2 separate regions of the Homo sapiens genome follow, and region 1 is linked to region 2. Evidence: fine-mapped expression QTL. A gene starts in region 2. The other region holds a variant in brackets. All regions are shown on one strand. Distances are from middle to middle. Region 1 overlaps SUN2 (Sad1 and UNC84 domain containing 2). Region 2 holds the start of TOMM22 (translocase of outer mitochondrial membrane 22).

What was found. PIP is the estimated chance that this variant, and not a neighbour inherited with it, causes the effect. A credible set is the group of variants that fine-mapping cannot tell apart.
Region 1: its variant is the best candidate, but not a certain one, in a credible set for the expression of TOMM22 in prefrontal cortex (CommonMind, PIP 0.54).

What each region holds. Positions count from the first base shown.
Region 1 is chr22:38,734,544-38,738,656 of GRCh38, forward strand. It overlaps SUN2 (Sad1 and UNC84 domain containing 2), which reads right to left. Exons shown (of 18, transcript NM_015374.3): 16 at 4,044-4,113; 17 at 3,630-3,722; 18 at 191-1,837. The coding sequence ends at 1,724. It also overlaps a transcript of GTPBP1 not described here. Among named protein-coding and RNA genes, the nearest start is that of SUN2, 19 kb to the right of the region's middle. The variant G/A (reference allele first, on the strand shown) is at 2,200.
Region 2 is chr22:38,680,059-38,684,578 of GRCh38, forward strand. It overlaps TOMM22 (translocase of outer mitochondrial membrane 22), which reads left to right and starts at 1,899. Exons shown (of 4, transcript NM_020243.5): 1 at 1,899-2,037; 2 at 2,265-2,383; 3 at 2,821-2,938; 4 at 3,709-4,520. The coding sequence starts at 1,921. The coding sequence ends at 3,783. TOMM22-DT (TOMM22 divergent transcript) reads right to left here and starts at 1,798. Exons shown (of 2, transcript XR_007068097.1): 1 at 1,668-1,798. RefSeq lists enhancers at 1,687-2,886, 1,933-2,002 and silencers at 1,733-1,802, 2,193-2,242.

The sequences.
Region 1 (4,113 bases), 54 kb after region 2:
CACTGGAGGAGACCTGCCTCAGGTCCCATCCCCCACCACAACTGGGCTTTAGCTGAAAGTTGTGGGTTTCTGAACTTCAGGAATAAGTCTTTGGGGACATTCGTTTGGCCAAGAATTCATTCCCTCATCTGCCCAAGAGCAGCTGCCCTAGGTGATAGGCAAAAGCCACATGAAAGCCACATCCCACAGCTCTTGGGCGTCATTTATTTTTTGCATAGGCATAAATTAGGATCTGGAGATAAAAAACTTAAGAACCAATAGTGCAGCATTTGTGACAGGAGAGCGCAAAACAAACCCTGGCTGCCTCGGGATGGAGCGGGGCGGCCTCACCACCACTGCATCCAGCCTCATGCTCCAGAGCGGATTTGAGGCTCAGTGCTGCAGTGAAGGCCTGCCCGCCTTCTTGCCCCTTCCCCGCAGCCAGACCACCAGACACAGCCGGAACCAGTGCCCCAGGCCCCTCTCCACGGCCAGGAACAAGAAACTGAGTATCACCCAGTGCCCCACAGAACGGGGCTAGGAATCAAGCCCTTAGCTTTTCAGTTAGAAAAACAGACCTTGAAAAATATATACATAATACAGTGGGGCCTGCTGGCTCTAAAAGTCCCCTCCTCCCCCTTCCCTATCCAGGGTAACTTCTGCCAGCCTCTTCCCCCAGCCCCCACCAACTGCCCCACAGAGAACAAACCAGAAGGGCGACTACCTGAACAAGAGCTGCAAGAGCCCAAGGGGGCAGCCTGAGCGGACGACCCCTACATCAGGGCCTGGTTAGATGTGGGGGCCGGTGCAGACAGACCTCGCACCCCGATACCCTGAACGTCCCCACAAGAGCCCAGGAGTTCCATGCTCCCCACTCTTCTTGCTATAACCCCAGATGCTAATGGCCCCAAAGACAGGTCTAGGTCTCCATACCCTGGGAGAATGTGGAAAGCAAGCTCAGGGGCACTGGCAGGCCCTAGCAGGAACAGGGAGCAGGGTGGGCCCCAACCTAGCATCAGGAGAGAGAAAAGCAACTACCGTCCCCAGCAGAGGGGAAGCCTACAGGGTTGGCCCTGGGCCCCTTAGAAGATCACAGCAGCCAGTCCCCTTTAGGGCACAAGAAGCCCCATGGCCCACTGCTACCCTCCCCGGGACAAATACACACTTTTGTCGAAGGCCCTCAGGGACCCTGTGGTTCATGCTTCCCTAGGTGGAGGGCACTAACCTTGTAGGAGAGCTGGGCAGCTCTCCATCAAGTGCTTCCTGCCTGGGGAAGTCCCATCCTGCTCTGGAGCTAAGCACCCTCCTCCCAGAGGGCCTCGCTTCCTTGCCCAGGGGCAGAGGCAGCTCACCTAGCCCAGGCCGTAGCTTGCCCCTCCCACAGCCCTGGCACCTGCTTCATCAGCTCCCAGGCACCAGCCCCTGACCCCAGCCAAGACCAGTCAGGTCCTACCTCTCCCAACTTCCCAGTCCCCCATGATATGCTACATATATACACACTCCCAGGATGGGAAGCAGACGCCACGGGCACAGAGGGAAGGAAGAAGGGAGCTGCTGGAGCCTGCTAACCGCCTCGAGCCACCTGCTGCTCAGGAGACCCTGCCCGTCCTTTTCATCTGCATGGGGCCACAGGCTCCTCTCTTGTGCTCCTAGAAGTCAGAGCGCCGAGCAAGCGTGTGGGGGAAGCGGCGGGGTGCTGTTCACCCACTCCCAGATGGCTGGCAGCAGGCACCAGTAAGCAGGGCTAGTGGGCGGGCTCCCCATGCACTCTGAAGCGGTAGATGCAGGTGTACTCGGGGTGGCCCCAGTTAGTCAGGATCCGCAGCTCCACCACCTGGTACGTGGCCATCGTAGGGGCCTGGGTAGAGAAGAAAGGGATTAAGAGCATCAGAGACCTGTGAGGCCTCACTGACAGAGAAGGTGGGAAGGGGAGACAGCCTCGCCTAGGGCCAGATGGCTCCCCTGCTCCTTCCCTGGGGCTCTGAAGAGAACCAGGCTTCAAAAGCTCCTATCTTTAGCCTCCTGAGCAGTGTTTCCAGCCAGTGGGTTAAGGGGCCACCTGTAGCACACTTCATCTGAAACCGGAATGAATTCATCCACAATCGTTTTTTTATTGTGATCAACAGATAGAACCACCTTCATAGAGGGCTTCATAGATGCTGATGTGGGGCACACTTGATTCTTTTTCTCCAGTGCCCATCGGGCCTCTGTCTAGCCACA[G/A]TGTTGGGAATGGTGTTAGCAGCATATCTTACCTGGGCAGATGCCACAGGCCTAGCACACTCCTGGCTTGTCCCTTCTCTCTGGCACATCGTTCTGTCCTCTACCCTCTTTTTTTGTTTTTGGAGACAGGGTCTTGCTCTGTCACCCAGGCTGGAGTACAATGGTGTGATCACAGTTCACTGCCTCAACCTTCTGGGCTCAAGGGATCCTCCCACCTTAGCCTCCCCAGTAGCTGGGACCACAGGTGCATGTCACCACACCCGGCTAAATTTTTTAACATTTTTTGTAGAGTCGGGATCTCGCTGTGTTCACCAGCCTGGTCTTGAACTCCTGGGCTCAAGCAATCCCCTCGCCTTGGCCTTGCAAAGTGCTGGAATTACAGACATGAGCCACCTCGTCTGGCCTCTATACTTTCCTAAAGAGAAATCCCAACCTCTCTTGCAGCCTAGTTACCTCCTCAGAGCTGATGACAACTCAGTTCTTTCTGGCTCCCCCGACAGCTCCACTGGACTGTTCCATAGGTGCCTCAGACTCAGCCAGACCTGCCCCCTGCTCCACATCAGCCCCCATCGCAGTGGCTTCTTCCTCCCACCCCATCCAACTGGACATTCACGACCCTCCCTGCTACGTCTTTGTCCTCACTCCCAACGCCCCTCTCCCCCACCTATCCTGTTCTGGCTGCTTTCCCTCAACCACTTCCTGACGGGTCTCCCAGGCCCAGGCTCGCCCCTTCGAGTCATATAGTGATGTTAGTCAAATGGACATAGCTTTGTCACCTGAAGCACAGCACTGCCTCCCCCAGGTCCCTGAGGGCTTATTTCCTGCCTCTCTGTGGCCTCCTCTTCCTGCCACTGTCCCTCGTCCACCTCCCACTATCCCGCCAACCCAATTCCTCACTCCAGGACTCCCCCGGTGTGGGGCTTAGGCCAATGGTTTGTTCAAATGCAGGCTCCTGGGTCCTGTCAGCCCTAAGGAACCAGACTCTCCTGGGGTGGAGACTGGGAATCTGCATTTCTAACTGACTTAGGAGATCGGATGCCCACTGAAGTTTAAGCCGCATGCACTGCCTGAGGCTCCAGCTGGCCATGGTAGAATGCCCGCGCCCTGGCATGTGCTGGCGGCGGCTCCTCGAACGCCTCTCCCGGCCTTCCTTTCCTGGCCACCCAACCCCTCTTGTGTAAAGCCCACCTCCTGGTGTCCTTTTCCAGGAAGCTTCCCTCATGCTGCCCTTCTGGAAGGTGCCTTCCCCTGTGCTGACGTCTGCAGGATGCGTGTTACACCCCATTTGGATATCACATCTTGAGCTGTGGGAAAGGAGAGCAGGGCTTCCCTCTCTGAACCCCATGCCTGGCAGGGTAAGTGCCCAGGGAGCACCTGCTGCCTGGATGGGGAGTCTGCGCCACTTCTGCTAGCACAGCAGCATCCCGTACCTGAAAGTGAAACGTCTGAATAGGCTCGCCGTCCTGATCGTAAGTGAACTTGCCAAGGAGTGTCCCCTCCTGCTGCAGGTCTTCGTCAAACCCCTGCAAAGAGAGCGGAGGGAAGTGGGGAGGGGCTGGAGCAGGGAGAACACCCCTCCCCACTCCAATCCCTGCTCCTCCCACCCAGCAGGTCAGGCACCAGAGTGGCCTATGACAAGTCACTTCACTCTCTTGTGCCACAGTTTCTGCCTCCAAAGCCTAAGGTAACAGGGACTGAAGTGCTGTCTCCCACCCTAGCTCCTCCTCTTCCAAATCCACTCCCCTCCCTTCCAGTCCAAGGGTGACCCTGACTTGATCCTCAGTAGAGAGGCCCACAGGATCCCCCTGCAGCCCCTCTGGCCCCACCACAGGACAGATACTCACAAAGATGGCGAAGTCCTTGGGGGCACTGGAGATAGTGCTGTTGGGTGACAAGGCCTTGGGCACATGCTCT
Region 2 (4,520 bases):
CGGGTGGATCACCTGAGGTCACGAGTTTTAGACCAGCCTGGCCGACATGGTGAAATCCCATCTCTACTAAAAATACAAAAAGTTAGCCAGGCATGGTGGCACACACCTGTAGTCCCAGCTACTTGGGAGGCTGAGGCGGGAGAATCGCTTGAGCCCAGGAGGTTGCAGTGAGCTGAGATCATGCCACTGCACTCCAGCCTGGGCGACAGAGCAAGACTCCATCTCAAAAACAAACACACAAACTCAAACAAAAATTTATATCTGCATACTTTCTGACCAGCTCACCTACTTACTAGAAATCTATGTACTATGCCTCAGTTTCCTCATTTCTAAAATGGGGATAACAGTGCCTACCCCAGTGAGCTGCTGTGAAGATTAAAGGAGGACACACCGCACCCACCCACACCCACAGGCACCAGAGCACCTGGTATTTAGGTGTTAACTCTTACCTTTGTTTGGTACATAGGGAAGATTTACCTGATGTTTTCCCAAAAGACCTGCAAGACACTAATTTATTCCTACCAAGTAAAACATGGCTCAGGAAAACGAAACTGGATCAGTGTCTCTCTAAAACAGCCCAAGAAGCAGGCCAAGGAGATGGACAAGGAAGATAAATCTTTGGCCCTGGTCACAGGCCGAATTAAGAAATCCGGCAAGGTGGGGCGCAGTGGCATAGGCCTGTAATCCTAGGACTTGGGGAGGCTGAGGCAGTCGGATTGCTTGAGTCTCGGAGTTCAAGACCAGCCTAGGCAACACAGTGAAACCCTGTCTTTATATATATATGTATGTGTGTGTGTGTGTGTGTGTGTATATGTGTGTATGTATATATACATAATACGTATATATGTATACGTATGTATATATATACATATATACACATACCTATATACACATATATACATATATACACATATATACATATATATACATATATACGTATATATATACACACACATAAAATATATATTATATATAATATATAACTATATATAGGCCAGGTGCGGTGGCTGATGCCTGTAATGCCAGCACTTTGGGAGGCCGAGGCGGGCAGATCACTTGAGGTCAGGAGTTCAAAACCAGCCTAGCCAAATGGTGAAACCCCGTCTCTACTAAAAATACAAAAAATTAGCGGGGCGTGGTTGGTGGTGCATGCTGAGGCAGGAGAATCGCTTGAACCTGGGAGGCGGAGCTTGCAGTGAGCCGGGATCACACCACTGCACTCCATCCAGTCTGGGCGACAGAGCGAGACTCCGTCTCAAAACAAAACCAACAACAACAACAACAACAAAAAGCTAAAATCTTACAAAAAGCGACCTGTTCCACTGTCCCTTGGGCCTGCGGTGATGGTGGGCCTGACTCCATTCGTCTTTAAACATCTCTATTCCCGGCCACATCTTTGGCCACCTATGCTCGAATAAAGTGTTGTCTTGGAGCCTGTTGTAAATTTAAGAATAAACTTTTGTTAAAAAAAAAAATACAGTGGCTCATCATCTCTTGAGTTGTTTTCACTCAGCCACTCCTACCTTAGCTGTGAACTTAAAGTAAAACAAGCCCCCAGAATCTTGCCAGAGTCAGCCCTTTGATCTTTGTTCTCCCCTGAACTCTATTACCTGGAATTAAAACAACGCATTTGAAAAAAAGAAAAACAAGCAAGTTTCTGAGCTCACCCTATACCCGCTGAACAGAATGACTGCGGTGGCGCCCCAGAACCTCTCACAGGCCTCTCAGCTGCTGCTAATGCCCGCCGAAGCCCCGACGCCCGGATAAGGCCAGGGCTGCCGGACCCGCTGCGGGCACTGGAGGACCCGGGGCTAGAGGGCGCCGCTCTCGCCCGGCTCGCGCCTCGGCTCCCGGAAAAGCAGCTCTGTCCGCCGTTCGGCTGCGCTCACCTCCTTTCCGCTTCCGGTGTCCCCTACAGTCATGGCTGCCGCCGTCGCTGCTGCCGGTGCAGGGGAACCCCAGTCCCCGGACGAATTGCTCCCGAAAGGCGACGCGGAGAAGCCTGAGGAGGAGCTGGAGGAGGACGACGATGAGGAGGTACTAGGGCCTCGCGGGGTGCAGAGCGGGAAGCGGGCCCGCTCGTGGGTGTGGGATCCGCGTGGTACGGGATCGGAGCGAAGCGGCTGCTTTGGGAGGCGGGGTTAGGGGCCCTGCTGGGCCCTGGGTGCCCTAGCTCCAGTGGGGCTCGGCGGCTCCCAGTGCCGCAGCGGGGCCAGGAATGGATGTCGCTTTTTCGGCTAAGACCCGCGTCTACTCCACCACAGCTAGATGAGACCCTGTCGGAGAGACTATGGGGCCTGACGGAGATGTTTCCGGAGAGGGTCCGGTCCGCGGCCGGAGCCACTTTTGATCTTTCCCTCTTTGTGGCTCAGAAAATGTACAGGTAAGGAACGAGGGCAAAGGCACTGGGTACGTGCATGGGATGGTCGTGGTGCTGTGAAAGAACACGGGGTTTGGAAGCAGCAGACCCGTGTTGGGTGACCTTGGGCTTGTACCCTATCCTTTCTTAGTTTCCTCTTCTGTAAAATGGGGATTCTTACCTGGCAGGGGAGTTGTGGGGGTTATTTCAGATTGTTGGAGATAATTAATGAATAAGGAGCTTTGTAAGAACTCAGGAGAATGTTAAACCGCCATCACTAGATGATACAGCTACCATAGCTGCTCCTCCTGTCTCTGGTAGGAGTATGGTGTAAGGAGCGGGTAGAATACGTTTATCAAAAACATTGGAGTATGTAATGTGAGAGGTTTGGTTACTGGGTAGTTCTTGCCTGTTTTGTTTGCATGTCTTCATGCTCACCCTCTGGGGATTTTCCTCTGCAGGTTTTCCAGGGCAGCCTTGTGGATTGGGACCACTTCCTTTATGATCCTGGTTCTTCCCGTTGTCTTTGAGACGGAGAAGTTGCAAATGGAGCAACAGCAGCAACTGCAGCAGCGGCAGGTGAGCCCAGACCTTGGGCTTTTTGCCAGTGGTGGAGACGCAAGTTATTTCACTAACACATTGGTCCCCAACCTTTTTGGCACCAGGGACTGGTTTCATGGAACACAGTTTTTACATGGATGGTGGGTTGGGGGTGGCCGGGGGTCGGGGGGGGGGTTCTGGATGATTCAAGTGCATTACATTTATTGTGCACTGAATTTCTATTATTACATTGTAATATATAATGAAATAATTCTATAACGTAGAATGAGTGGGAGCCCTGAGCTTGTTTTCCTGCAACTAGACAGTCCTGTCTGGGGGTGATGGGAGACAGTGACAGATCATCAGGCATTAGATTTTCATAAGGAGCTTGCAACCTAGATCCCTCGCATGCACTGTTCACAAGGGTTTGTGTTCCTATGAGAATCTAACACTGCTGCTGATCTGACAGGAGGTGGAGCTCAGGCAGTAATGTGAGCGATGGTGAACAGCAGTAAACACAGATGAAGCTTCTCTCACTTGCCTGCTGCTGATCTACTGCTGTGTGGCTCAGCTCCTAACAGGCCATGGGCCAGTGCCAGTCCACAGCCCAGGGGTTGAGGGCTCCTGTTGTAGCACCTGAGTTGACCAACAGTTAATGTGTGGGTGGGGATTGGGATCGGGCCCATGCTCTTTTAGTTGTCTGACTGTGCTTTCAGTATTATTTTTGTAGACGTTGGCCCCATCAGGTATGGTGAGAATAAGCTCTCTAGGCCTGTATGATGCCTTACACCCCTCCTTTTCTTTTCCAGATACTTCTAGGACCTAACACAGGGCTCTCAGGAGGAATGCCAGGGGCTCTACCCTCACTTCCTGGAAAGATCTAGATTGTTATTGCTGTTTGAGCTGTCTCAGTGGGATAAGTTTGAAATTCAAGTGTTTGAACTGCTGATAATTTGGATTTTTTTTTTTTTTTAACTTTGGCACATTGATCTATCTAAACCTGGTGGGGAGAATTATCCCCACATTGTCTCATGGAAAGACTCAACTTGCAACTGTGCCCTCCACACTATCCTTACTTCTGTCTCCACTCTGATACCAGAGTGCAGCCATGCAGATGGTTATTCCAGCTCTGGTCACCCGACTCCTTTCACCAAATTGCTCCTAACTGGAAGATCTCACTTTCCCCTTGTGGGGTAGGAACCGATGCCAGTGGGAGGGATGTGCCCCTGACCATTAACGACTGTTTTTTTTTTTTTTTTTTAAAGAATGGAGTTGTTGGGGCAGGACATGCACACAATGTGAAACAGACAAAATGCATTACACCTGTAGTGTAAAGTGGCCACTATGAATCCCTATGTATGAGAGGAGGGAGGCAGGCTGCAGCTTCAGCCACAGAATGGGGACTATGGAAGACAGCAGGAGCTCATTTCCTCTGCACATTTTGGCTGTTAGACCTGTGTGTGTGTTTAAAAAAAGAGAAGTCAGTGCTCACTTTTTGTATTTAAATATTAAAAATGATTCCAACTGAAAGTGTCATCCTAAGTACCTTGAAATGAGACCACGTCAGAGACATGTACTGCCCCTCACATTTTCTCACCTAAACCAGCAGCACCTCCATCTT